Regions from separate parts of the Homo sapiens genome. Here region 1 is linked to region 2. The links come from fine-mapping of genetic effects on gene expression. A gene starts in region 2. The other region holds a variant in brackets. All regions are shown on one strand. Distances are from middle to middle. Region 1 overlaps SEC31A (SEC31 homolog A, COPII component). Region 2 holds the start of SEC31A (SEC31 homolog A, COPII component).

Evidence for each region.
Region 1: its variant is fine-mapped to the expression of SEC31A in whole blood (TOPMed, PIP above 0.99).

Annotation. Positions count from the first base shown.
Region 1 is chr4:82,862,469-82,877,982 of GRCh38, reverse strand. SEC31A (SEC31 homolog A, COPII component) reads left to right here. Exons shown (of 27, transcript NM_001077207.4): 5 at 2,161-2,256; 6 at 3,232-3,372; 7 at 5,897-6,039; 8 at 7,559-7,658; 9 at 10,667-10,828; 10 at 11,023-11,175; 11 at 13,385-13,621; 12 at 14,591-14,665; 13 at 15,411-15,449. Among named protein-coding and RNA genes, the nearest start is that of SEC31A, 21 kb to the left of the region's middle. The variant A/G (reference allele first, on the strand shown) is at 7,563.
Region 2 is chr4:82,883,383-82,898,330 of GRCh38, reverse strand. It overlaps SEC31A (SEC31 homolog A, COPII component), which reads left to right and starts at 7,178. Exons shown (of 27, transcript NM_001077207.4): 1 at 7,178-7,243. THAP9-AS1 (THAP9 antisense RNA 1) reads left to right here. Exons shown (of 4, transcript NR_034077.1): 3 at 2,557-2,639; 4 at 3,484-4,879. It overlaps SNORD143 (small nucleolar RNA, C/D box 143), which reads left to right and starts at 2,403; the gene lies at 2,403-2,478. SNORD144 (small nucleolar RNA, C/D box 144) reads left to right here and starts at 106; the gene lies at 106-191.

The sequences.
Region 1 (15,514 bases), 21 kb after region 2:
ATGTGGCTCACACCTGTGTAATCCCAGCACTTTGAGAGGCCGAGGCAGACAGATCATGAGGTCAGGAGTTCGAGACCAGCCTGGCCAACGTGGTGAAACCCCGTCTCTACTAAAAATACAAAAATTAGCCGGGCATGGTGGCAGGCACCTGTAATCCCAGCTATTCGGGAGTCTGAGGCAGGAGAATCGCTTGAACCCGGGAGGCGGAGATCGCAGTGAGTTGAGATCGTGCCATTGCACTCCAGCCTGGGCAACGAGCAAAACTCAAAAAAAGAAAAAAGAAATGTAATGCAGATTTAACAAATAGTCAATTAAGATTCTTTGTACTGTTGCCTTCATAAACATTTCTGGTTGTTAATTATATAAATGCACAGCTTAATAACGATCTTAGCCTGAACAGGATGGTGAAACCCTGTCATTACAAAAAATGCAAACAATTAGCAGAACATGGTGGCACACGCCTGTAGTCTCAGCTACACGGGAGGCTGAGGTAGGTTGATGGCTTTAGCCTGGGAGGTCTACGCTGCAGTGAGCTATGATCACACCACTGCACTGCAACCTGGGTGACACATAGAGACCCTGTCTGGAAAAAAAAAAAAGACCTTGAGTTAATAGGATACTAGATTATAACAACCAAAAATGAGTATTAAGAAAATTTTAAATAGTTCCTTTTCTTATATTATAAATAGATACTTAGGGTATAGCAATACAGAAACCCAACTTGTTTATTTCTTTTTTGTTGTTGTTTTTTGTTTTTTGAAACAGCGTCTTGCTCCCTCTGCCAGGCTGGACTGCAGTGGCTCATGACTCACTGCAGTCTTGACCTCCTGGGCTCAAGCAAGTCTTCTGTCTCAGCCACCTGAGTAGCTGGGACTACAGGCATGAGCCACAACACCTGGCTAATTTTTGTAGAGACAGGGTTTTTTCGTGTTGGTCAAGCTGGTCCCAAACTCCTGGGCTCAAGTGGTCTGTCTGCCTCAGCCTCCCAAAGTGCTGTGACTACAGGCATGAGCCACTGTGCCCAGCCTTCGTTTCTATAGTTTGTGGTATCTGCTCTTTAGCTAACTCCTTTGTTAATTGTATTGAACAGCTGATGATTTTTAATAAAGTATTTTGTGTTATAGGTAGCTACTACCATAGAATGTCTCCCTTTTTTTAGTTATATGCCAACTGATAGAGAATAATTTGTAAGAGTAAATAGTAGTGGATGAAGGTCAGTATATGAAGCCCATTATCTTCCTGTACTTTATATTACAATTTCAGGTTCTTTTTGACCCTTAAGGTATGTACCAGAGAAAACCTAGAAATATTGCCACCTGGAATAAGATTGAGTGTATATGAACTAGAAATATGTGAAGAGTTATGACAAGAGATTTTACTAGTGCTGTATTGATTCAGCTCTGGAAGCTGGCTTTGAGGTATCCTGAGAAAGATGCCACAGTTTTAGGATTCAGCTTTTTCTGAAAGCAATAATTGATGACCTTTTTAATCTTATAATTAAATCTCCTTCCAGAGATGCAAAGATACAAACAGTAATCCTCACATGGTTGCATGACTGATTAAGAATTTATCCAGCCAGGTTTGGTGGCTCACGCCTGTAATCCCAGCACTTTGGGAGGCCGAGGCAGGTGGATCACCTGAGGTCAGGAGTTTGAGACCAGCCTGACCAACATGGAGAAACCCCGTCTCTACTAAAAATACAGAATTAGCCGGGAGTGGTGGTGCATGCCTGTAATCCTAGCTACTCGGGAGGCTGAGGCAGGAGAATCACTTGGACCCGGGAGGCGGAAGTTGTGGTGAGCTGAGATTGCACCATTGCACTCCAGCCTGGGCAACAAGAGCAAAACTCCATCTCAAAAAAAAAAAAAAAAAAAAGAATTTATCCATATAATTTTTAAAATAATATCTTGCATTAAAATTAATTTGTTCTCAGTAGACATCTTTTGTCTTTGTTAAGTAGAATTTTATGTTTTTCTAGAAAACTTTAAATTTTGAAAGAATTATGCATAATTTAGAAATTCATGCATATGTTTTTCACTTTTCAAATTAAATAGAAAAATTGTGTATGCTACATCTAATATCTTTCTAGCTCTGAACTGAGTTATTCTGAATTTTCTTAATTATTCATAAGTGCTATTTAGTTATGGTTTCTTCTTGCAGACTAATCTGGTAGCTTCTGGTGCTAATGAATCTGAAATCTACATATGGGATCTAAATAATTTTGCAACCCCAATGACACCAGGAGCCAAAACACAGGTATTTTTATATTGATTTTGATCATTGTAATCAAAAAAGCCAAAAGTAGTTCTCCTAAACCTACTTATTTCACTTTTAAGGCTTCTCACACAAAACATATATGTTTAAAATCATTGTTTAGATATTACTGATTTTTCTTCAGTAATTAATAAATATGTTTCTTCAAAGTATCAGTGAGTCCATCAAGAGTAAATATTTATTTAGTACCTACCACCTGGTAGACACTGGTCATTGTACTAGGCATACAGTAGTAAACAAAATGAACAAAAATCCTTAATAATTGTCTTAGATATAGTATAATTATTTTTGTTCTTTGTGTGATAGTTGCTCTGTGTTTTGGCAACAACCAACCTTCTTAAAACACACTTAGACAAGACCATGGAAGACAAGGTTTAAAATAAATACCTCAAGCCCTTTGCTTGTGTATTTCTATTAAGTTTGGTAACAACAGTCTTCTCCTGTTCTTCCCTGAGTTTCTTTATGTTGTATAGGCTATCCAACTTGAGTAGCCATTGTAACTGGCTCTAACATTTTGGCAATCTGAGAGGTAGCATAATGACAGCATATGCACTACCATTTATAAAGGTATTTTGCTAATGGTCTAGGCTGTAATTTTGCCCTGCCTAGTTTTCTGTCATAGTCACCAACATCTACTTTGTGGTCCATAATCTACCTTGCAGCAGTTGCAAAGTAAAGAAACAGTACTTGGTTTATAGCAGAAATTCAATAAAATTCTTGTTGAATGAGATATTATGAAACAAGATAATACACTTGAAGTGGTATGTACCTGCATTTTAAGTCATATAATTTTATGTGTTGAGAATGTAGAGATGTAGGACTATAAAGCAAATTTGTGGCATAAATGGATCAGATTTTTAAGTAATACACTTTTCAAAATGAAGGATCCAATTTTACAGTTAAATTTGATTATAATAGAGAAACAAGCAGTTTTTATTAACTGTTTCTTCCTTGTAGCCGCCAGAAGATATCAGCTGCATTGCATGGAACAGACAAGTTCAGCATATTTTAGCATCAGCCAGTCCCAGTGGCCGGGCCACTGTATGGGATCTTAGAAAAAATGAGCCAATCATCAAAGTCAGTGACCATAGTAACAGAGTAAGTATGTGATTGACTTGTGATGAACATGTTGTATTTCTGCTGTAGGTATTCCTATATTGTTTGTCAGAGTTGACAACAAATCAAATTTCTGTGAAGTCAAATCCTGTTTTTTTATTAATCAGTCATGTTAGAAGGAATGTTTTGTTTTTTTTCCTCTAAGGGAAAATCATAAAATTCCCAATAAATATGTTGGATATTATTAATGATGAAGAGAGATTGGTTAATCAAGGAACTTATTCCATGATATACTGGTGGTTTTGCTTTGCTAGCTGTTTTAAAACATTGCAGCAACTTTTTTTTTTTTTTTCTTGAGACGGAGTCTCGCTTTGTCGCCCAGGCTGGAGTACAGTGGCGTGATCTCGGCTCACTGCAACCTCTGCCTCCTGGGTTCAAGCACTTCTCCTGCCCCAGCCTTCCGAGTAGCTGAGATTACAGGCATGCACCATCAAGCCCGGCTAATTTTTGTATTTTTGGTAGAGATGGGGTTTCACCATGTTGGTCTGGCTGGTCTCAAACTCCTGACCTCGTGATCTGCCTGCCTCGGCCTCCCAAAGTGCTGGGATTACAGGCATGAGCTTCTGTGCCCGGCCATTGCAGCAACTTTTTAATTCATCTTTAACTTTTCTTAGAATGTAAAAATTTTTCCTGCTGGAAGCTTCATCACTGTGAACTTGTAATATTTGACTTCTTGGCCTCATCTCTTCCTCTGATTAGGTACTGCTAAAATGAGCTAATATATTTTCGGCACTTACCCATAGAGCACATTAAATTCTGAACCTTTTAGGTATCTTTATTTTTTTATGTCATTAGATGCCATAAAATAATTTAGATATAATTTGGAGCTTTTTTTGTTTGTTTGTTTATGAGTACATTGGATAGTTTGACATTTTCTAAAATAAGTTTGCCAAAAGTCAGGCATACATATGTAGTTTAAAAACAACAATAACAACAAAAAACTATTTGGGAGAACACTTCTTCAGAGTATTGTTTTCAAGTGAATCAGGAGTTTTAAAACAGAAGTTTCAATGGAATAAACCATACCAGAAGCATTTTAGTCATTTTGTGGAATATTTAATAGAATTTGAACTTGCAGATAGTTCCTAATAATGTTAATTTATTCCATATGAAAATTTAAATGGTAGTTTTTGCTTCAGATATTTTGCCTTGATTTTTCTGATAAAATAGAGGAAAAGTATGGGGTTTTTTTGTGTCTTGTGTGTGTGTTAATTTTTTTAAGGGTTTTTTTTTTTTTGAGAGGGACTCTCACTCTGTCACCCAGTCTGGAGTGTAGGGGCGCAATCATGGCACTGCAACCTCCGCCTCCTGGGTTCAGGCAATTCTCCTGCCTCAGCCTCCTAAGTAGCTGGGATTACAGGCGTCCGCCACCATACCTGGCGAATTTTTGTATTTTTAGTAGAGATGGGTTTTACCATGTTGGCCAGACTGGTCTCAAACTCCTGACCTCATGATCCACCCGCCTTGGCCTCCCAAAGTGCTGGGATTACAGGAGTGAGCCACCACGCCCAGCCTGTATGTGTTAATCTTTTATCTGTTTTTTGTTTTTCGTTTTTCTGAAAGTATTTTAAATGTGCATAAAATGTTTTCTCTACTGGCCGGGCGCAGTAGCTCAATCCTAACACTTTGGGAGGCCGAGGTGGGCGAATTGCCTGAGCTCAGTAGTTCAAGACCATCCTGGGCAACATGGTGAAACCCCTTCTCTACTAAAATACAAAAAATTAGCCAGGCATGGTGGTGTGTGCCTGTACTCCCAGCTATTGGGAAGCTGAAGCGGGAGAATCGCTTGAACCTGGGAGGCGGAGGTGGCAGTGAGCTGAGATCGTGCCACACTGCACTCCAGCCTGGGTGACAGAGCGAGACTCCATCTCAAAAAAATAAATAAATACAATGAAATGTTTTCTCTAAACTTATATAGTTTTGATAGTAAAACTCATTTTTGGTATACAGTTATTCTGACTCAGAATGGTTTTGTGTGTATCAAATAGCTGCATGAATTGAGAAAATATTCAAATATCTTACTTTTAAGACTACTGTTTAAGACTGTTCAATAAAATTTAGTAGTTTTACATTTGTTTTTGTTTTGTTGTTTAAAATAAACTAAGGCCAGGCGCGGTGGCTCATGCCTGTAATACCAGCACTTTAGGAGGCCGAGGTGGGTGGATCATTTGAGGTCAGGAGTTCAAGACCAGCCTGGCCAACATGGTAAAACCTCATATCTACTAAAAATACAAAAGTTTGCTGGCATGGTGGCTTGCGCCTGTAATCCCAGCTACTCAGGAGGCTGAGGCAGGAGGATCACTTGAACCTGGGGGAGGTGGAGGTTGCAGTGAGCTGAGATGGCGCTACTGCACTCCAGCCTGGCTGACAATAAATAGATCATAAATAAAATAAGCCACAGCTGATGTTTTTCACTATTTGTTTCAATAAAGGTATATTTCTCGTTGTAGTTTGGCTTTTCATAAAGTAATTTGATTCATAAAATGTGAACCTTAACTATCTTCAGATGCATTGTTCTGGGTTGGCATGGCATCCTGATGTTGCTACTCAGATGGTCCTTGCCTCCGAGGATGACCGGTTACCAGTGATCCAGATGTGGGATCTTCGATTTGCTTCCTCTCCACTTCGTGTCCTGGAAAACCATGCCAGGTATCGTGCTGCTGTTACAAAGAACTTGATTTGTTTATTTTCTGAACATGTCGGTGATGTTTTCGTGACCAGAAATACACCATAGGACACAGGAACTTTTTTTTTTAGATGGAGTTTTGCTCTGTCACTTAGGCTGGAGTGCAGTGGCAAGATCTTGGCTCACTGCAACCTCTGCCTCCCAGGTTCAAACGATTCTCCTGCCTCAGCCTCCTGAGTAGCTGGGATTACAGGCGCAAGCCACCATGCCAGGAAATTTTTATAGTTTTATAAAAATTTTATAGCTGGGATTACATGCATGCGCCACCACGCCCAGCTAATTTTCATAGTTTTAGTAGAGATGGGGTTTTACCATGTTGGCCAGGCTGGTCTCAAACTTCTGACCTCAAGTGATCTGCCCACCTTTGCCTCCCAAAGTGCTGGGAATACAGGCATGGGCCACCGTAGGAACTTAATGTTTATGTCAGTTATCAGTTAGTCTATGGTAAAATTGGTTTTGTTATCCATTGTTTTGCTTAAAGTCACAGTTCCTAAATTAAGTAACGACTTACTGCAGTTAGATTTCATGCCCATCCATAGGTAAAACATTTTACTGTACCTACGTTACTTGTGTGTGTGTGTGTGTGTGTGTGTGTATGCATGTATAATCCCAATATAATTTTTATACAAATAGGATAATTTGTGCATATAGTTAGATAACTTTTTTCGTTAATCATGAATACCATATAATGGTAAGAAGTTGATTTCCACAAAATGATACGTATATATTTTGAGATGGGGTCTTGCTGATTTGCCCAGGATAGAGCCACCATAGCTCACTGCAGCCATGAGCCTCTGGGCTCAAGTAATCCTCCTGCCTCAGCTTCATGAGTATGCCTGGAACTACAGGCACACGCCACCATAACTGGCTGATTTTCAAATTTTTTGGTAGAGACAGAGTGTCGTTATATTGCCCAGGTTGGTCTTGAACTCGTGGCCTCAAATAATCCTCCTGCCTTGGCCTCCCAAAGTGTATAGAATAATTTTTATCTACATATTTTCTCATGGAAGGGTGGTCTGTAATTTATTGTGAAATAGTCTGTTGGGCATTTGTTTTCACTTTTTTGCTGTCATACACTGCACTACATTGAACATCCATGTATTTGTAATGATCAGATAGCATATACGTTACTAAGTTGCTTCTGAAAATATTGCATTTATTTTATTTTTATTTCTTTTTTTGTTTTTCTTTTTTTATTTTATGTTGAGATAGAGTCTCACTCACTCTGTTGCCCAGGCTGAAGTGCAGTGGCTCAATCTCAGCTCACTGCAGCCTCCACCTCCCAGGTTCAAGTGATTCTCCTACCTCAGCCTCCTGAGTAGTTGGCATTACAGGTGTGAGCCAATGCGCCCGGCGCTGAAACTCTTGCATTTAATTGTATTTCTGTTAACAATGTGTGAATCTACAAAACCTAGGCAGAAATAGTTGAGATTTGGTTTTCTCAAGATTAAAAATTTCCTTGTTCCTTTATGTTTTTTATAGGGGG[A/G]TTTTGGCAATTGCTTGGAGCATGGCAGATCCTGAATTGTTACTGAGCTGTGGAAAAGATGCTAAGATTCTCTGCTCCAATCCAAACACAGGAGAGGTATGGGCAGGAAATGTGTCTCAACCTTGTAGCCCTTATAGTATGTTACTTCTGGCTACATAAGAAATTTTCTGTGTGGATTCTTTAGTGGATTACTATGTGAAGAGTATGTGGACGTGTGTGTGCAGTGTTTATTTGGCAGCAATTTTATCAGGAACATAATCTAAACTCAGCTTTTTAACCAGAAAAATCAGTAATTCAAATAGTATATTTTAAACTAGTAACCATCCCCTCCTCATTTCCAATAATGTGTTTATTACCTAGACTCAGAAATACTTTGATTTATTTCACATGTGGTTTATGGGAATCAGTATCTTCGATGTAGGATTGTTCAAGGTTTGCATCTTTTGCCTGCTTTACCGTTCCTGAGGATCCTCTTTCACTTCTGGAAATCAGTAGATACAGTTTTCCAATCTCTCTTCTGAATGATAAAGCAAGAATATAAATTATAGCTTTTATATTTTTACCTTTTTTATGTGAAGGTAGATGATTGCTAGTGCTTATGTAGTTTGATGGAATGCTAATAAAAATAAAGAGTGTCTTCGATAAGTTTTCATCTATATTGTTAAAATTAAAACAAGCCCTTTAGTTATTTGGTTTCTGGTTTAAGAGTTGTGGATGTAACAATATAGAATCATTAACATTAGGGGAGACAAGAGAAAAAAAATTAATAAATTTTACCGCATATCATTTGTAGGACAGATAACAAAAATCTTAATTTTACACTGTGCCTTGCCAAGTAAATTCAAAATTCATGGAACTTACTATTCTGTTATCATTTTCTCTGTAATATAATTTAATTAGATGAATTTTTGCCTGTGATTAGTTGTGTGTGCTTGGACTTTGAAGGAAGAGACTTTTAGTACATGCTACAACTAAAAAATTGGATTTTGTTGGCCGGGTGCAGTGGCTCAGGCCTGTAATCCCAGCACTTTGGGAGGCTGAGGCGGGCAGAGCACGAGGTCAGGAGATCGAGACCATCCTGGCTAACACGATGAAACCCTGTCTCTACTGAAAAAAAAAAAAAATACAAAAAAATTAGCTGGACGTGGTGGCGGGCGCCTGTAGTCCCAGCTACTAGGGAGGCTGAGGCAGGAGAATGGGATGAACCTGGGAGGCGGAGCTTGCAGTGAGCCCAGATCGCACCACTGCACTCCAGCCTGGGTGACAGAGTGAGATTCCATCTCAAAAAATAAATAAATAAATAAAAATTGGAATTTGTTCAAATGCAAATAAAGGATAGATAAATCATCTAAGTTTTATCAAACCACACATCTTATCAAACAAAATAAATACCAAAGACGTGAGCAGGCTAAATACCTTTTCAATTAATTCTATTTTTTAATAAAATGAAACATTTTAAATGTCACGTGGGCCACTTGTGGTGGCTCAGACCTGTAATCTCAGCACTTTGGGAGGCAAGGCAGGCTGGTGAAACCCCATCTCCACAACAAATACAAAAATTAGCTGGGTGTGGTGGCGTGTTCTGTAGTCCTAGCCACTCGGGAGGCTGACATAGGAGGATCGCTTGAGCCCAGGAGGTCAAGACTCCAATGAGCTGTGATTGCGCCACTGCACTCCAGCCTAGTCATCAGTGTGAGACCCTGTCTCAAAAATAAAAAAAAGAAAAAGGAAAAAGAAGGTCACATGAAGCCAGAGTTAAGTTCATTTGACTTATCATAAAGTCCTAAGATGTTGCTTCTGTGAGTAGCAGTTAACCACCATACTAACTTTGAGTTCACAACAAGGATTACATTGTGAAGGTTTCATATAAGCCATTTTCTATTTATTTATTTATTTTTTTTAGTACTATTAATTATTTTTTTGTCAGGGTCTTGCTGTGTCTCCCAAGCTGGAATGCAGTGGCACCATGACGGGTCACTGAAACCTTGACCTCTTGGGCTCCATCAGTCCTCCCACCTCAGCCTCCCAGCTAACAGGGACTACAGGCGTGCAGCACCGTGCCTGGCCAATATTTTGTATTTTTTTGTAGAGATGGGGTTTTGCCATGTTCCCCATGCTGGTCTTGAACTCCTGGGCTCAAGCATTCTGCCCACCTCAGCCTACCAAAGTGCTAGGATTATAGGCGTGAACCACCATGCCCAGCCTCATGTAGGTCATTTTCTATAGTTCTTTCTCTGTCATTTTCTTTCTAAAGGAAGCTGTTAATGCCGAATTCTGTTAGGATTCTGCAGTGATAGGAAGGTTGTGTATAGTACATGTTTTCTCTCGTGATTAAAAGTCAGATTTCTTAGTGAATTCTTCCTTCTCAAGATTGATTTTAAAATTTGATCCTCAAGTAACCTAAATATGGTTGTTGTTTGGGTCTTACCAGACAAAAACAATTGGACAGGACATCACTAATCTTTTAGAGTTTAAAAAGTTGGCCCTAGGCCGGGTGCGGTGGCTCACGCCTGTAATCCCAGCACTTTGGGAGGCCAAGGCGGGCGGATCACTTGAGGTCAGCAGTTCAAGGCAAGCCTGGCCAACGTGGTGAAACGCCATCTCTATTAAAAATGCAAAAATTAGCCGGGCATGATGATGGGCGCCTGTAATCCCAGCTGCTTGGGAGGCTGAGGCAGAATAGTTGCTTGAGCCCAGGAGGTGGAGGTTGCAGTGAGCTGAGGCTGCTGCCATTGCACTCCAGCCTGGGCGACAGAGCGAGACCCTGTCTCAAAAAAGAAAAAAAAAAGTTGACTCTAATAGAGTGTGCTGGTCTTTCAAATGCATCCATTATTTTGAACACAGAAAAGCCTCAGTTTTTAAAATGCGTTTATTCAAATCTGATTGAAATTTTAAGCTGCATTCCTGTTAATCAGAATAGGTCATCGTAATGGATCATTCTTGCACTTTAAAAAATCTTAGTATTCTTTTTCCTGGCTAAAGATACTTTCTACAAAAAAATATTCAATTTAACTATACTTGTTGACCACATTAATTCAGGTGTTTTGGTTACAAAGTGGCCATACCATTTTCTGAGTTTTGTTGTTTGTTTTTTGTTGGCCTAGGTGTTATATGAACTTCCCACCAACACACAGTGGTGCTTCGATATTCAGTGGTGTCCCCGAAATCCTGCTGTCTTATCAGCTGCTTCGTTTGATGGGCGTATCAGTGTTTATTCTATCATGGGAGGTAGCACAGATGGTTTAAGACAGAAACAAGTTGACAAGGTAATAGGAAGTGTTAAAGTTTTCTATTATAATGCCTGAAAAAAGTATGTGTTGTGTAATATTTTGAAATGACTTCACTGATTAACAATGCTGGTTAATTGGACAATTGTGATCAAAAATTTTTTTGGATATGACTGGAAAAAAATGAAACTTTGTGTATGGTCGGATGCTTATGTTATTATTATCTTTTTTAGCTTTCATCATCTTTTGGGAATCTTGATCCCTTTGGCACAGGACAGCCCCTTCCTCCGTTACAAATTCCACAGCAGACTGCTCAGCATAGTATAGTGCTGCCTCTGAAGAAGCCGCCCAAGTGGATTCGAAGGCCTGTTGGTGCTTCTTTTTCAGTAGGTGGATTTTGTTTTTATGGTCCATAGGCACAAAGGACTTTTTATACCAAAGTGTTATTATAGAGTCACTCTGATGGAAGCAATCAGGGTTTAAGTTGGGATTTGAGATGTACTTGTGGGTATTTCATCATTCAAAATGGTTTCTCTGAAAAATTGGAACCTACTCTTTTTTTTCCCTTTTTTAAAAATCATGGTAAAATATACATAAAATTGATCATTTTGTTCATTTTTAAATATACAGTTCAATGGCATTAAGTACATTTACATTGTTGTTGTGTAGCCAACACTTTATATTCCTCCCCTCCTCCATTTTTTTGTTTGTTTGTTTGTTTTTTTGAGACAGTCTCACTCTGTTGTACAGGCTGGAGTGCAGTGGCACAACCTTGGCTCACTGCAACCTCCGCCTCCTTGGTTCAAGCGATTCTCCTGCCTCAGCCTCCTGGGTAGCTGGGATTACAAGCACGTGCCACCACACCTGGCTGGTTTTTGTATTTTTAGTAGAGATGGGGTTTTACCATGTTGACTGGCCTGGTCTTGAACTCCTGACCTCAGGTGATCCACCCGCTTCGGCCTCCCAAAGTGCTGGGATTACAGGCATGAGTCACTGCACCCGGCCCTCCTCCCTTTTAAATTTGTCTTCCTTCTCTCTCTCTCTGTCTCTCTTTCCCTCCCTCTGTCTCTCTTTCCCTCCCTCCCTCCCTTCTTTTTCTTTTCTTTTCTTCTTTTTTTCTTTTCTTTTTGCAGGGAGTGTCCTCCCTCTTCTTCATCCTTTTAGCTTTCTTTTTTAATTGCCAGCTTTTTTTAATGGTAAAAAATGCATAATATAAAATTTTAATTGTAAAAAATGCATAATATAAAATTTACTATCTTAACCATTTTAAAATATACACTACAACCATTTTTAAATATATACTACAGTAGTGTTAACTATATACACGTTGTTGTGCAACAGATCTCTAGAACTTTCTCATCTTGCAAAACTGAAACTCTGTGCCCTTGAACAACAGCTCCCCATTTCCTGTTTCCCTTGAATCCCTGGTAACCACATTCTACTTTGTTGCTAGGAGTTTTCTACTTTAAATTACTCATATAAATGGAATCATGCAGTACTTGTCTTTTTGTGGCTGGCTTATTTTACTTAGCTTAATGTCCTCAAGGTTTATCTGTGTTGTAGTGTGACAGAATTTACTTCTTTTTAGAGGCCAAATAATATTGCATTGTATATATATATATATATATATATATATATATATATATATATATATATACCACATTTTTTTTTATCCATTCATTTGATGGTCATTTTGGTTGCTTCCACCTTTTGGCTATTGTGAATAAATGCTGTGGTGAACATGGGTTTGTAATTATCATTTTGGGATCCTGCTTTCAGTTTTTTGGGACATATACCCAGAAGTGGGATTGCTGGATCATAGGATGGTTCTATTTTTAAGTTTTTGAAGAACCTCCATACCATTTTATAGCCGTTTTACCATTTTACATTCTCACTAGTGGTGCACAAGGGTTCTAGTTTCTCCACATCCTCTCTAGCACTTTTTGTTTGTTTCTTCCTTTTACATTGCTGATACCTTGCCTAATTCTTTCATGCCAAACTTCTAATAGCTTGATTTCATATTTGTTGCTTGTCTTTTCCCCCTCTAATCTCTACTACATATTCCAAGATTAATCTTCCTAAAATGGACCTTTGAATATGTTTTATGTCACTCGTAAGTCTGTTCTTTGGATCTGCTTAATCTTCTCATCGTCCTATCTGGTCTTCTCTATCTGGGTGGATCACTTGAGGTTAGGAGTTCAAGACCAGCCTGGCCAACATGGTGAAACCCTGTCTACTAAACATACAAAAGTTAGCCAGGCATGGTGGCCGGCACCTGTAATCCCAGCTACTCAGGAGGCTGAGGCAGGAGAATCACGTGAACCCAGGAGGCAGAGGTTGTAGTGAGCCAAGATCCCACCTTTGCACTCCAGCCTGGGTGACTAAGAGCGAAACTCTGTCTCAAAAAAAAAAAAACCAAAAAACCAAAAAAGTACATTTCATCTAGAACAGAAATTGAAGTGGTGTCAGACTGTGGCGCATGAGAGGTTGTATCAACTAATTTCATCCAGATTATCTGTTTAGGCCACTTTATAAGCACTTTTTTTGGCCATATCCTTGGGTTAACACTGAGTTTGTTCATTCTCTCTTTTATAGTTTGGAGGCAAACTGGTTACGTTTGAGAATGTCAGAATGCCTTCTCATCAGGGAGCTGAGCAGCAGCAGCAGCAGCACCATGTGTTCATTAGTCAGGTTGTAACAGAAAAGGAGTTCCTCAGCCGATCAGACCAACTTCAGCAGGCTGTGCAGTCACAAGGATTTATCAATTATTGCCAAAAAAAAATTGATGCTTCTCAGACTGAATTTGAGAAAAATGTGTGGTCCTTTTTGAAGGTAAAGTTGCTGTTTAAAGCTATATTATTTCATTATCTGCAAATTTAACTGTTCCTTTATATTCTAAATCTGTCCTCCTATTAAAGAAACAATTGAAAAAGTGTGATTTCAGCAATTCATCATGAAATTAAGAAGCCTTATAAAGAGCATACAACCTAACTTATGTCCAGAGTTTTTCCTTCTCTGCTTTGAAAAGTGTAATATGAAATACATTTTTAATAAGTAAAAAAAAATAATAATAGGTCTGTTTAGAGGAGAGCGACATAGTCAGCACACCTATTTTGAAGATGAGTACATAGAGTTTACTATAATGAAAACAGAATATTTAACATCTATAGTAGATCTAGTTAAGGAAAATGAAAAAAGAGGAAGAGGAATAGAGGAGAGAGGTTGGAGGCATTTTTCCTTTTACTTTAAGAGGAGTTAGATTAGAATAACAAATAGAATTTCCTGGTTGGTCATTTTGCCTCCACTGGAATGTCTGTTTCTTTATACGGTACTGGTTTTTCAAAGGTAAAGCAGTCTTGAATACAGTTAGGTTAAAGTATAAAATTAAAGAATTTATATTTTGTAATAATTTTGGGAAAGAATTTTAGGACATAGAATATTCCACATAGTTTGAGTTTTGTATCAGTTTAACCTTTGGACATAAGTTTGTATTTACAGAAATTACTGTTCAAAAGTAAGCTTTATTCAACCAGGATAATTAATTACTAGTATATTTACTATTAATAAATAACTTATTTAAAAAAATAATTCTGGGCACATGTTCTCAGGACCTCCTGAGGCTGGGTCTCCAAATAAAAAACAAAAAAACCCACTATTCTTTGGATTCCTTCAAACAGTGAATCTTTAGAATGTAGACTTCAGATATTTTTAATAATTCTCTTTGGAATTTGATTCATTCTTATAAAAATTCGGCCTTTAAATGTAGGTCTTTGTTTTAAGAATATGTCTTTTTTTTTAAAGGTAAACTTTGAGGATGATTCTCGTGGAAAATACCTTGAACTTCTAGGATACAGAAAAGAAGATCTAGGAAAGAAGGTAAACTTTTGGGAAAGTTAGATGGCATGCTCTTTATGAATCATACTTTTAAAAAATAAAGTTCTACACAGATTATCTCAAATCACCCAATAAACATTTAATAATAATTTGTGTTTGGTTGCCAGCGTTTTTTCCCTTTTTCTTTTTCTTATTCTCCATCATTACCCACAGTGGTTGCCAGAGTTTTGAATACATATTGATAAATGACTATGTAACTTGTATTAGCCTTTCATCATTCTTTGGAAATGGCTAGAGTTTTCTATAGCATTGCAGGTTGTTGCATGTGTGGTAGAGGTATACTGTGCACTTTAAGTGCATATTGAAGATTAGTGCTCTTTTGATGTCAGGCAGAACTAACTAAGATCACATCACAACCCCACTGCTTAGTGGCTATGTCTTTGCTCACTCCTTTAGAGTTTTATATTTAACTTTATTAGTAGTCTAAACTTCTTGAGGCTGTAACTTTTTTAGGCTTGTAAGAGATTGATATGAAAGTTTTACTTGCATGCCTGATGGCAAAAAATGAGGAAATAGAATGATTGTCGGATTATTTCTAATTACTTCCATGTGAAAGAAGCTAGCACCATGGAGAACCAGTTCTGCATAGCTTTTTTAATTTTTTTAAACATACTATTCCTATAAGAACTTTTGTGGATTTTCGCCAGTGAGAAGCAAGAGGTGAACATTTGCTGGATGCTCTGAAATAGAATTCCATGTAGTAGGTGAGCTGTTATTTTTATTTCAGATTGCTTTGGCCTTGAACAAAGTGGATGGAGCCAATGTGGTAAGAAGGCCTTTAAAAATAGCTACCTTCTAAAACTTTGGCTAGGTCATAACGAAGAAGGAAAT
Region 2 (14,948 bases):
TTGTTTATAACTTATCTATACTTTTTTTGTTGTTGTGATTATTTTACTGTTGACATGGAAGTTCTCAATCTGATCATTTGGTTATATCATTGCTTCTTCTAGTAACTTCATATCCAGTGATTAAACCTTTTCACTGCTGTTCACATAATGAACCGTTGTGATTATTGAATACTTAAATGAGGATATGTAAGCTGTATTAAAGATAGTGTTATTTGCAAAGGCATTGACTATTGCACAAAAAATTTTAAAAGAAAATATCTCTTTTCAGGAATTGTACTCTCAGAGATGTTGAGAAAAGATACATGGGTCTTGGAAGATAATTACTCAAAATATGCAGGGAAGGTAGTATATCTTTCTATTTTAAATGTATTAAGTATTCCTGGAACTATAGCAGTGAGTTGGAAATGGAGGATTGTCCAAGTAAAAAACATTTATTAAGGCTTTAATGAAATCTACCTATTTTATGGTATATAATCTCATTAATTGTCCACTTGGAAAGAATAATAACAGATATTTATTTATTGGCCAGTTACTATGGGCCACAAATTATGCTGAGCTTTTTTTAATTTCATTTCATTTTATTTTATTTTTTGAGATGGGGTCTCACTCTGTCACCCAGGCTGGAGTGCAGTGGCGCAATCTCAGCTTATTGCAACCTCTGTCTTCCAGGCCCAAGCAATCTTCCCACCTCAGCTTCCTAAGTAGCTGGGACCACATGCATGTACCACTACACCTGGCTAATTTTTTTTTGTATATTTGGTAGAGACAGGGTTTTACCATGTTGCCCAGGCTGCTAAGCTTTTTATATACAGTATATAGAAAGAGTTGGTTTTCTTAAACAATATTTATTTCTCATAATAACTCTATGAAAGCAGGTATAGACTTCTTGCTTTCTAGGGTTGGTATCTTGCTTGTTGAGGACCTACCCTTTTGTGTTGCCGAATTTTTCATTGTTTGAGTTCTGTCTTTTGTTTCAGAAAGCCATGGAGTTTTGAAATTATTGTTATATCATTATTTGTTACATAATTATTTCTACTTCTAGAATCTCATGCTAACTTGGAAGTGTCTTCTCAGCATCAAGCCTGATATGGAGGGGCAGCTACACCCTAATACGCTCCAAAACTAGTTATGCTTTGTTTTATACGTAATGCTTCTGTTATTAGACAAGTGGTTTCCAAATATCAGAAGCAGTGCTAGGACTTAAAGGAAAAGGGGGAGTGTTTTTTCTTCTAATAGAACTTTTGAGCAGTGATGAAAGGAAAACAAGAAGACTCAAAAGATTATAAATCTCAGGCACGAATTAGTGTTCTGCCAATTAGGAACATTCTGATTGCTTGACAAGGTCTATATTTTGCTGATGAGGAGTAGAAGCCTGTGGGAGGTGGGGGTGGAAGCAGCAGAAGGAAAAGAGTAGCAAGTATTTAGTAAAATGTATTCATCATAGTGGATAAAAATCAAGCTTTGGGGAAAAAGGTCAAACTCCTTCAATGATGCTGTACATCTGTACCTTTACTCCATCCTATAGCAAATATTTGTATAACTGCACAGAAGAAATTGGACAATATTCCTTGAAAAATTCTTAGAAAGTTCAACTTTCCAAGTTAGTATCACCCCAAGGAAAATTATATGAGTAGGAATACCTAATTTCTAGCCATACTCTAGTTCCAATTAGCTTCTCTAAGTAGCTGGAACTGCAGGCGTGTGCCACCACACCTGGCTAATTTTTTGTATTTTTGGTAGAGAAGGGGTTTTGCCGTGTTGCCCAGGCTGCTAAGATTTTTATATATAGTGTATAGAAAGAGTTGGTTTTCTTGGCCAGGCATGGTGGCTCGCACCTGTAATCCCAGCACTTTGAAAGGCTAAGGCAGGTGAATCACCTGAGCTCAGGAGTTCAAGACCAGCCTGGCCAACATGGCGAAACTCCGTCTCTACTAAAAATACAAAAATTAGCCGGGCATGGTGGCACGCACCTGTAACCCCAGCTACTTGGGAGGCCAAGGCAGGAGAACCACTTGAACCCAGGAGGTGGAGGTTGCAGTGGGCCAAGATTGGCCACTGCACTCCAGCCTGGGTGACAGAGCAAGACTCTGTCTCAAAAAAGAAAGAGTTGGTTCTGTTAAACAATATTTATTTCTCATAATAACCCTATGAAAGCAGATACAGACTTCTGGCTTTTTAGGATTGGTATTTCACTTGTTGAACACCTACCCTTGTGTCAGATGTATAGCAGGTTAACAAAGTCAATACAGTGATACACTTGACATAATCTTTGTTCTGAGTTTTTTTCCCAATTATAGTAAAATTGGAGGTCTTAACTGTTCTACATTAGATAAATATATGCATTTGTTTTAAAGAGCTAAGCAATGAGAATCTTACAACTAGAGCTGAAGTTCAAGAAATAAATGTCCAATGATTAAATTTTTTCCACTGCTGTTCACATCATGATTTGTTGTGATTAATGTATGTGGATGAGGACATAATAGAAAAAGAAAATGATGAGACTTGTATATATTGTGTTTCTGCACAATGAGTTCCTTTGAATGTTTTTCGTTTTAGGAATAAAATTGAAGGGTGTTTTTCTTAGAGAACATCATTTGTCATATTTATTTGATCAAGAAGTTGAAGATTTATATAATAAGGTATGGGACTTACACATTTATTTTGATAAAAGAACACAGAAAAGGTCAGGTATGAGCAGAAAATTGACATTTATTTCAGCCTAATGTGGATACTGTACTCTGAATTAAAAATTTCTTTTCCTTACTCTTCCAGCTTTTAAAGATAAGTATTATTTCAAAATAGTATTTTTTTAATTAATAGATTCAATTCAGGAAAGGCATTGGAGGGGGTGGAGCTTTTAACTTTGACAGTCTCACTCTGTTGCCCAGGCTGGAGTGCAGCGGCGCAATCTCTGCTCACTGCAATCTCTGCCTCCTGGGTTCAAATAGTTATTGTGGCCCAGCTTCCCAAGTGGCTGGGATTAGAGGCGCATGCCACCACACCCAGCTAATTTTTTTTATTAAGTAGAGACCATGTTTTGCCATGTTGGCCAGACTGGTCTCAAACTTCCAGCCACCAACCTCAGCCTCCCAAAGTGCTGGGATTATAGTCATAAGCCACCACACCTGGCTGTTGGTTATCTTTTCTTAGAAATAATGATATAATCTTTTCAGCACCTGATATTCTTAAAGATCCAGGGTTTACAAATGACTGTTAGATATGCCAAGGATGACTAGCCTATAACTTAAGGATCTGTTCAGGAACAGTAGAAAAGAAGGTGATAGGAAACTGGGAATCTTAAATCTAATACTAGTTCTGTCATGAATTAGGCTTGTTATTGTAGTTGTTTCTCAAATTTAAGAAAATATGAGGGGTCTTGAAAAAGTGCATGGAAAATGCATATCATGAAAAAACTATGCATGGATTTCAAAATTTTTGGACCAAAATAAACTCCTACTAACTTGTTATAACATGTCTGAACAGGATCTAGTTTGAAGCACTAAGAAGAATAAGACATCAGTTTGAAAAGAGGCTCTATCAGAACAACACGAATTCTGCTAAAATTGAAGCAAGAACAAACATCAAATATATGTTGACACTTGGGTGGAAGAATGGTGAACTAATTGATGCTTTATGAAAAGTTGATAGGGACAGTGCTCCAAAGAAATCAGTTTACAAATGGATAACTCGTTTTAAGAAGGCATAAGGTAATGTTGAAGAAGAAGCCCACAGTGGCAGATCATCCACATCAGTTTGTGAGAAAAAAGTTAGTTCATGGCGTAATTGAAGAAAACCAACAATTAACAGCAGAAACAACAGCCAACACCATAGACATCTCAGTTGGTTCACCTTACACAATTTTGACTGGAAAAGTTCAGCAAACTTTATACCTGATAGGTACCAAAACCATTGCACCCAGATCAGCTACAGACAAGAATAGAGCTTTCAATGGAAATTTTAAATAAGTGGGATCAGGATCTTGAAGCCTTTCATTGAAAAATTGTAACAGGAGATGAAACATGGCTTTACCAGCGCAATCCTGAAGACAAAACACAAAGCAGTGGTTACCAAGATAAGTAGTTCAGTTAAAGCACAAGAGGACTGGTTGAGAGCAAAGGTCATGGCAACAGCTTTTGAATGCTCAAGGCATTTTGCTTGTTGACTTTCTGTAGGGCCAAAGAATGGTAACGTGCTTATCATGGGAGTGTTTTGAGAAACTTAGCCAAAGCTTCAGCAGAAAAATCCCCGAGAAAGACCAGAGAGTTCTTCACCACAACAATGTTCCTGCTCATCCCTCTCATCAAACAAGGCCATTTTGCAAGAGTTTTGATGGGAAATCACTAGGCATCCACCCTACAGTCCTGGTTTGGCACCTTCTGACTTTTTGTTTCCTAATCTTAAAAAAATTTTTCAGGGCAGTACATTTTTCTCAAGTTAATGTATAAAGAAACTGCATTGATGTAGATAAATTCCCAGAACTCTCAGTTCTTTAGGGATGGACTAAATAGCTGGTATCATCACTTACAAAAGTGTCTTGAATGCTATAGAGCTAATGTTCAAAAATATAGTTTATATTTTTTATCTTTTAACCATTTTTCCACAAACTTTTTGAAGTCTCCTTGAATATGTACCATTTATAAAGGGGAAAAATTCTGTGACTACTCATGTTGACTTAATGCTGACTTAATTTTCTGTTTTGTAAATATATACAAACAAGTTGATACAAATTTTGTTTATAGCCCTTAAACAAATTTGTGAAATAAATGCATTCAGAAACAAACTAAAACAATGAAATGGATGCTACTGTTTTACTGAGGTGTAAGCATAGTACTGGCTGCTATGGAAAAAGTTACATAAACATTCATGTATCTTGTGATGATTGTTTTGTCTACAACTTCACTCTTTGCAGACATCAAGACTGTTGAAATGAGGGGAAGGGATCTGAATTCCCAAAAGAATGTCAAATGGGCATGGAGGCTCATGCCTATAATCCTTGCACTTTGGGTGGCTAAAGCAGAAGGATCCCTGGAGGCCAGGAGTTCCAGACCAGTATGGGCAACAAAATGAGTCCCTGTGTCTACAGAAAATAAAATAATTAACCAGGCATGGTGTTGTGTGCCTGTAGTCCTAGCTACTTGGGAGGCTGAGGTGGGAGGATCACTTGCGCCCTGGATGTTGAAGCTGCAGCGCGCTGTGATCATTGCCACCACACTCCAGCCTGGGCAACACAGCAAAAACCTGTCTCTAAAAAAACCTAGAATATCTTTGTGCTATGCAAATCCTAATTTGAAAAATTTGTCATTAAATTCTCTCCAAACATTCTTCTAGTGAGCAATTCAGTTTTTATTTGATTCAGGATTAGGCTTGGATAGTAGTTAACTAAATTGGATTTAGTTTTGTGAACTAAAGAGTTTTTCTTTTTTTAGATACAGGCAGTCTTTGCACAGTTCCAATATGCATAAATACCAGTGACCACAGTTAAATAAAACCAGTCCAACAATGTGGTTAATAATTCCATTACCACAGTACTGAGAAAACTTGCATAAATTTTGCTGCTAGCTCTTTAGTCCACAAATCATTGTGCCCCCCCCCCCAAAAAAAAGATGTGCATCATGATCAGTCGCCAGTTACATTACTTTGCTTTCAAAGTTTGTTGATTTGTTACTGATCATCTGTTTAGTTCATGCACAGATAGCAGAGCACAAAGTGCATAGTACTGTTGCCTCCTTGACCCCAGAGATTAAACTTGTGACCATTTATAAAAATGGATAATTAAAAGAGGTAATTGGTCAACAAAGGACAGAGCAGCAAAGAAAAGTGATAATGCTGGAAGTGAAATTGGATGTGATTAGATTTGAAAGTGGTGACAGCAAAGCAAAGATAGGTTGAGACCCAGACCTGCATGAAGCTGTAATACAAGCCTATTGAAAAAGTCTGATAAATGTAAAAAGGTAAAGTTGCTTCAACGTCTTTCAGTTTTAATTGCACTAGGAACAGAAAGCTGCTTGCGGTTGAAATGGAGCATTTACTTGTTTGAATTGAAGACTAATCAAAAACAAATCCCAATCAGTTTGACTAGCATTCAGGCCAAAGTGATAACCTTAGTTACTGCGTTGAAAGAAAATGGTAATTAGAAGACTGAAAGAGAATATATTACTACCAGTAAAAGTTGGGTTCATTATTTCAGAAGTTGGCGTGAATTGATGTTAAGCTGTCTTATGAAGCTGCAAGCTTCAGATGGAATGTTACAGAAGATGTAGCTGACTGTGGGAATGTTAACACTGCTGCTGTTCAAGGGGCAGGATCCTTCTGCTTTAGCTACCCAAAGTGCAAGAGTTGGCTTTGAATGCTAGATGTAATGAGAAAAGAACTTGTCTAGAAGTTAGGAGATCTGGGTTGAATCCAATTTCTGGTAATTTAGCAAGTGATTTTCCTTTGGCTTCACCTTGCTGTAAAATAATTCCTCCCTAAACTAAAAGTACACTTAGGCAACGCATCTAATTAGATTTGAGGTTGTGGAGAAACAGTGGCAGAAGGTGAGTGCTACCGGGTCTCAATACCATGGGATAGTAACAAGTATGAAACGGTACTAATTGGAATTAATATAACACCCCATCTATACCTCTTTGTCCACAATAGCCTTTGGGAATGCCCAGATTGTTTCACTTTGTATAAGTTCTCAAAACGCCAGAATGTGCAATCAAGTGGGTAATTTTAAGAACTCAGTCACAAATTACAATAAAGCCCTTGCAGCCCGATTTTCCACCTGGTTTGGCGCGGGCAGTGTCGCCAGGGGCTGCCGACGCCTCACAGGACTAGTGCTACGTGGCGTTCCTGCGGGCCACGGCGGTTATTCGGCCAGACGGGGACACCCTCTGCACTAGTCCTTTACCCACTAGTCCTGGCTACCCCATCCACATTCTGCGCGCCGCCCCTCAGAAAAGGGTTTCTACGATCGCCGGGGCGCGATGACCGCAGAGCGCCACCAACCAGCGGAGCCGTACCCCGCCTCCCAGGCTACCGCCGGTCCCGGAAGTGCCGTGGCGGGCTGTGCGTCGGGTGGGCGGGGAAAGATGTCGCTCCCGGAAGTGTTGGGCGCAGGGCGTGGCTGCGGCTGCGGCTGCCACGTTGGAACGGAACGTGGAGGTGGCCCTGGCCGGGGAGGAGGGGCGGCGGCGAATGCTGGGAGAGTCCGACGAGCGCTGCACTAACGCAGGATCCGGCTGCCGAAGGTCCTCGCCAGGTGCGTCCGCCCGTTGCTTTTTGTCCTCTTCGCCGGTCCTTAAGCTTTGAGGTAGAGCCCAGGCCAAAACTGGGACCGCAGCCTGGGTCTCCGCTGCCCCGCACCAGCCTGAGGCCCGGTCTCTGGTGACGGCGCGCCCCTAGTCTTGGTTTCGGGCCCGGCGGAACAACGCCTGGCATCTGGACTCCAGTGATCGCGCCCGTCCGCATTCGCCGACGTCTCCACTGCTGAGCAAAAGCCACCCGAGGCTGGCGACAGTGTCTTGCCGGGGAGTAGTAGCCGGGCTGGTAACTGGAGTTTGAGATTAGGAGACTTTCAGACCCTTGTGCACAAAGAGGTGCGGTCCCCGAGGGTGAGGAGAGGAAAAAAAATCTCAGGATTACTTTGGCTTTGGTTAGGATTTTTTTTTGTACTTGAACTATTGCCAGATTTAAAGGTTCATAGGTTTGAACTGACGTCTACTGTCATTTAACTAGGATTATTTTAAGGACGGTGGTAGCCAGGCGCAGCCTGTACTTTGAGGGCAGTCTCATTAAGTGTTACATGTTTTTGCTAATAAGTTGTTAAATTACGGGGCTGTTGTAAAATAAACCAAAATATTGCCTGGACTTGTGGGCATTATAAATTTTTTCTTGCGCTTAAGGAATTAATTTTACGTAGGGCTATTTGAAGTTGCAGTGATCTGATAGTCTGTGACAAATCCTTTCTCCTAACTTATTTTTTCTAACTATAGAAAACTGAAATTTGGTTGTCTTTGTGGGCAGTTATAACTGTATTTAATCGATAAGGGTGTGTTCTTGTTACAGCGTCCTGCGTTTTCTGTACCTCCGTTTATTCAAGAGTTGGCAAAAGCTTACTCTCCTTTTTTTTTTTTTTTTTTTTTTTTGAGACGGAGTCTCGCTCTGTCACCCAGGCTGGAGTGCAGTGGCGCGATCTCAGCTCACTGCAACCTCCGTCTCAGCCTCCTGAGTAGCTGGGATTACAGGCGCCCACCACCACACCTGTCTAATTTTTGTATTTTTAGTAGAGACGGGGTTTCACGCTGTTGGTCAGGCTGGTCTGGCACTCCTGACCTCAAGTGATCCGCCCGAGTTGGCCTCCCGAAGTGCTGGGGTTACAGGCATAAGCCACCACGCCCAGCCTACTCTCCTTTTTTAGTGGTTCTTCTGTGCTCCTTGTTTCTCACTATCCCTTAATTAACAGCTCAGGGAGAGGTTTGTAGACTCTTAAGAACTTTTGGATAACTCGTAGTGTTTTTGTAGTTTTGTAGTGATTTTATCTTAAATACGTCCGCGGTTATTTGTGAAATTTGAAATTTGAGGTGGATTTATAATGATATTGCTTAATTTTATATAAGCAAATTCTTTATTGAAACCAATAACATGGGAATAGAAATAAATTTGTAAACTGTGAAGAGCAATGATTCAAAATTTTGGGGGGATTTCACTGTCTTACGGGAATCTAATGAAAGCATTGGAAGAATGCACATATACACACATGTAGGATTTTCTTTTTTTTTCTTTTACTTTTTTTTTTTTTTTGAGACAGGGTCCCTCTTTGTTGCCCAGATTGGAGTGCAGTGGTGCAGTCATAGCTCACTATAACCTTGAACTTTTGGGCTCAAGAGATCCTCCCGCCTCAGCCTCAGAAGTAGCTAGGAATATGCACGTGGCGCACGCCCAACTAATCTTATTTTTTATAGAGATGGGGGTCTCACTGCGTTCCCCAGGCTGGACTCAAGCTCCTGCTTTCAAGTGACATGTAGGATTTTCTATATACATAATATTATGAAGTTTACAAGTTAAAAACTCCTGTAAGGGGATATTACTAGATTGATTTACATTGATTACATTGTTGTTAGGAATGTCATTAGGTTAATTTCAGCTCAAAAAGTTTTATTATACTGAAGATTAGTATGACACCAATTAGTTCAGTAACCAGTGCACAGTTGCTTTCTCCTTTGATTTGGTTTGGGTTGAGTGAAATGAACCTAGAACATTGAAAATACTAAATAAATCCTCTAAACAATTGTTTCTATCCATATTGAGATATTTTGCCTGCAGAAAATGGATTTTTACTGAAAGCAGTGCCAACTAGGGATTGTATACCTGGTTTGGGAATCCAAGTTCCAATTCTATTACCTCTTTAACTTTTTACTTGCTTTCTGAGTTATGGATCAGCTCTGTATATAGCATTGCAAGGTTGGTATTTTTCAAAGAACAGTGCTGGTGGGTTTTAGTATTGCTTCACAAAATTTACACTTTGAAAATGAGCAGAAATAAAAAAGTTTCCACCTAATTGAATGCAATTATTGAGAGAAAGTTGCATGAAAAATAAAGAGTTCTAGTCTAGAATATAAATTTTCCTCAAGAAATTTTTTTTTTTTTTTATTTTTTTCTGAGGCAGAGCCTCGCTCTGTCACCCAGGCTGGAGTACATTGGCGCGATCTCGGCTCACTGCAAACTCCGTCACCTGGGTTCAAGCGATTCTCCTCCCTCAGTCTCCCGAGTAGCGGGGACTACTGGCCGCGCCATCACGCGCAGCTAATTTTTGTATTTTTAGTAGAGACAGGGTTTCACCAGGTTGGCCAGGATGATCTGGATGTCTTGACCTCGTGATCCGCCCGCCTCGGCCTTCCAAAGTGCTGGGATTACAGGTGTGAGCCACTGCGCCTGGCCGTGTCTGTGTGTATATATATATATGTTTTTTGTGTGTTTTTTTTTTTTTTTTTTTTTTTGAGACGGAGTCTCGCTCTGTCTCCCAGGCTTACTGCAACCTCTGCCTCCCGGGTTCAAGCGATTCTTCTGCCTCGGCCTCCTGAGTAGCTGGGATTACAGGTACACACCACCACGCCCGGCTAGTTTTTGTATTTTTTAGTGGAGACGGGGTTTCGCCATGTTGGCCAGGCTGGTCCCGAACTTCCGGCCTCAAGTGATCTGCCCACCTCGGCCTCCCAAAGTGCTGGGATTACAGGCATGAGCCACTGCGCCTGGCTAATAGATGTTTTTTTTGTTGTTGTTTGTTTGTTTGTTTGTTTGTTTTGAGACAGAGTCTTGCTCTGTCACCCAGGCTGGAGTGCAGTCGCATGATCTCAGCTTACTGCAAGCTCTGCCTCCCGGGTTCACGCCATTCTCCTGCCTCAGCCTCCCGAGTAGCTGGGACTACAGGCGCCCGCCACTGCGCCCGGCTAATTTTTTGTATTTTTAGTAGAGACGGGGTTTCACCGTGGTCTCGATCTCCTGACCTCGTGATCCGCCCGCCTCGACCTCCCAAAGTGCTGGGATTACAGGCGTGAGCCACCGCGCCCGGCCTAATAGATGTATTTTTGAAGTTTCGTGGTGGTAGACGTTTTAAGTAGTGATGTTTGTAATAACTGTCATTTATGAGCATTTGTTTATATATGCCAGGCACTGTTCTAACCACTCTGAGTAATACCACTTATTTCTCACAACAACCCTGTAGTATAGATACTGTTCTCCTTATTTTAATGAGAGAGGAGCCAGGACATACATGGATAAAGCGACATGATTAAAGTCAGAGGTGGACATAGTGAAGCTGGAATTTAAACTGAGGGTGTCTGCCCTAGACCCCATGCTCTTAATTGCCGTGCTATAGATACTGTCTTGGAGATGGCATGTATGAACAAGCCCACACAATTTTCTTTTCCTTTCTTTTTTCTTTTCTTTTCTTTTCTTTTCTCAATGTTTTCTTAGAACATTGAGTACTAAGGCTAAGAAATAAACTTTAGTAAATGCTTTGAATTCACATTTAACTATTTTATGTTCTTATAAATGTGTCTCTTTCTTTTTCAGTCAATGTTACACATTAACCAAGCATTAATGAATTAGGTAGTCCTTGTACTTAGGTCTTAGAAATACTATAATTGTATTCCATTTTTTTAATAATACAGCTATTTTGATTTCACTTTTAGAAATTATTCTGAAGGCATCTTATAACCTTTTCCCCCTTAACCATACTTTCTCCTTTTTTAAAAAGTAAATGATCCTTTAAAGAGTTAAGAATTTAAAAGTAAATGTTTTATCTGAAACTGGTCACTCTAGCTCATTAGTCTACTTGTTTTCCCCTAAATATAAACATTTAAAATAAATCAAAACTTTCTGTATATCTCCTTCTGTGCTAAGCAATTTTGAGTCTAAAAAGGGGTAAAAGTTTTGAAAAAAGACGTTATTTGTCTAGTTGGTGAGATAAGATAGCACATAAGGCAACTGGTTAAAAAAAGGTAATTGGAAAATATGTAAACAATATGTGCTAGTAGAATGTTACAAAATGTTTATTAAAATATAATGACGTTATTATAAAATGCTTAAATCATAGTATTGACAAGTACAAACTTGTCGGGGAGTATTTAGATCAATGTGGATTGAATCATCAGGGCAGTTTTCATGGAGGAGCTGGAACTTGAATTTATTATTAAAGATCAGGTGAGACAGTTGGCAAAGAGGAAGAAGAGGAGATTCATGTAAGAAAATAAATGCCTTTTTTATATCTTAGAAAGTTGGAATTTTTCCCCCCAAATAACCCTGAAGTTTTCTTGTTTAATCTCATGATAGTGGTAATCTTTAAAAATAGCAAACCTATCAAAAGCACTAACCCATGTGCTGAGCACTTTTTTTGGCTCCCTATTATAAAACGTATGATCTCATTGGAACCTCACAGCATCCCATGAGGTTGTCACTCTTTTCCCTATTTTACGAATGTAGAAACTGGGGCTCAGGGAGGTTAAATAATGTGTCCAAAGTATCATAGCTAATAAGTAACAGAGCCAGTAGTTAAATTGAGGATTAACTCCAGAGACCATGCTTTTAACCATGTGATACATCCTGCCTCCTAATCTCACTTTGCTCTAACCTAACACAATTTCTAAAATGCATTTCTTCAGTTTCATCATGCATGCTGGTTGCTTTGTTATTGTTTCTTCTAAATGTTAATATTTCCTCTATGATATAAAAATTGAATACCTGAACTTGTTGGAAGTAGAAAGAACTCTGGAGCTAAACTTGCAAGTTCCAATCTTGGCTCTGCCCCTTGCCCCCTTGCTAGCATGTACAGATTGTCTAACTTTCTGTGTCTTAATTTTTTCCTCTATAAAATCTCCTTCAAATATAAACAATTTGCAGGTACAAGACTCGGAGCATATGTTTAAGGCAATCTTAAGGAAAATGTTAGAGGATAAACTCTGGAGCTGAGTAAGGAAACTGGCAAAAATACTCTTGGAGAGCATTGAGTATGCATTTTAACTGCAGGACTGAGACTGGAACAAAAGTGAGAATGAGGAAGAAAGAATAAAATGTAAATGTTAAATGTCCAATAATGTAAGGGATTGATTATACAACTAATAAAAAGAGAAGAGGAAAGAAATTGGAGGTAGAATAAGTTTGTGAATTGCCACATCTGTAATGGCTATGAGTCAAAGGACATCATTTAAAGCTGACAGATCAGTTAGTAGAAGTATAAGGAGTTCAAAGGTAAACACTGAGAAAGATAATACTATTGACTATAACCATGTTGTGTGGATGGGCAGTAAGATTATACAAGCTAATTTCATAAGTGCTCATAGTAGGGAGTTAATAGTTTCTGTGTAAAGAAATAGAGGATTAATGGTATTAAGTAAAATATTTAAAATTACAGTTAAAAAGATAGAATCAGAAACACATATTATAATGAAAATATACATCATCCTAATTATCAGAAAAATGGTAATTGCACAAAAAAGAAAACAGACAATGAAAGACTTTTTAAAAATTATTACCCAAAGATATTAAACCAAAGTAAAATATGGTAAAACTAAGACCAACCATGTCTGTCATGTCAATACATTTTAAATGTCCTTAGCTAACCTACTGTGAAAAGATTTTCAAATTGGATCACCAGTAAAATCTGTTGGTTTTTTGTTTGTTATTTTGTTTGTAATGATGACAAAGTAGTTCTGAAGGGCAAAAGTATACATGTAAAGGCAAACAAGAGGTGGAATTCAGACCAAAAGTCATTATTTGAGACAAAGAAGGATATTCATAAAGCTAAAGTGTATATTTGACAGTGAATTTGAACATTATGGATATGCACCAAATAACTATTAAATAACAAAGTAATTTTCATAAAGCAAAAGTTTCAGGAGATACCATGAGAAATTGACATAAATATATTAGCAGTAAGAGACTTAATTCACTGTTTCGGTCCAAGGCAGATCAAGTGGACAAAAAAGTAAGGATATAGGAGATCTAAACAAATCAATAAAGAGGACTTAGTTAATATATATTGAGCTCTAGGCCCTGAAAACAGAGAGCACCCCTTCTTTCTAGGTCCCAAGAACAATTCACAAAAATTCACTATATAGGCTCTATTGAAAGGAAAGGAGGAATTATAGGCATAGGGGATTTTAGGACAAGGGAACTACTCTGTGTGATACTATAATGACAGATACATGTTGTTATACATTTGTCAAAACCCATAGAATATACAACACCTAGAGTGAGCCCTCATATAAATTGTGGAGTTTCAGTGATAATGATGTGTTCATGTTAGTTTATGGATCGAAACAAATAGACCTTTATGATGTGCGATGTTGGTGGTGAGAAAGGTTATGTGGTTGGGAAATGTGTAGCAATTTTTTGTACTTTGTGGCTCAACTTTTCTAGGAACGTAAAACTCTAAAAGATAAAGCATATAGCTTTTTTTATTTTTAATCAAAATCCTATGAAAGGTGAAAAGAAATTTTTTTTTTGAAAAAAGCAAAGTCAAAAGATAGTCTATCAACTTAATAGAAAAATTGTCGAATGATGGCCGGGCGCAGTGGCTCACCCCTGTAATCCCAGCACTTTGGGAGGCTGAGGAAGGTGGATCACCTGAGGTCAGGAGTTCGAGGCCAGCCTGGCCAACATGGTGAAACCCCGTCTCTACTAAAAATACAAAAAAATTAGCCTGATGTGGTGGTGTGTGCCTGTAATCCCAGTTACTTGGGAGGCTGAGACACCAGAATCGCTTGAACCCGGAGGCAGACGTTGCAGTGAGCCGAGATCGCCCCACTGTGCTCCAGCCTGGGTGACAGAACGAAACTCCATCTCCAAAAAAAAAAAAAAAAGAATAGAAAAGAAAAATGGTCAAATAATACATGACTAGACAGAAGAGATGACAGAAAAGGAAATATGTTTACCCATAGTCATACAAAAAAAAGATGTTATACATCATTTATAGTATTACTATACAGAGCTAACATTTTTATTTTTCTCTTTTTTTTTTTTGAGTCATGGTCTCACTCTGTCGCCCAGGCTGGATTGCAGTGGCGCAATCACGGCTCACTGCAGCCTCAACTTCCCGGGCTCAAACAATCCTTCCTCCTCAACCTCCCGAGTAGCTGGGACTACAGGCGTGCACCACCATGCCCAGCTAATTTTTGTATTTTTTCTAGAGATGGGATTTCACCATGTTGTCCAAGCTGATCTTGAACTCCTGGGCTCAAGCAATCCACTTGCTTCGGCTCCTAAAGTGCTGGGCTTACAGGCCTGAGCCACTGCACCTGGCCTTTCATTTTTTAGTGTTGGTATGATCTAAAAGTGTGACAGTATGCTCTGATAAGGCTGTAGGGCAATAAGTAATCGTATATTACTGTTGGTGGTATGAAAAGGCACAATTGCCATAGAGGACAACTTGGTAATATTCATCAAAATTAAAATTGCATTAACCTTTT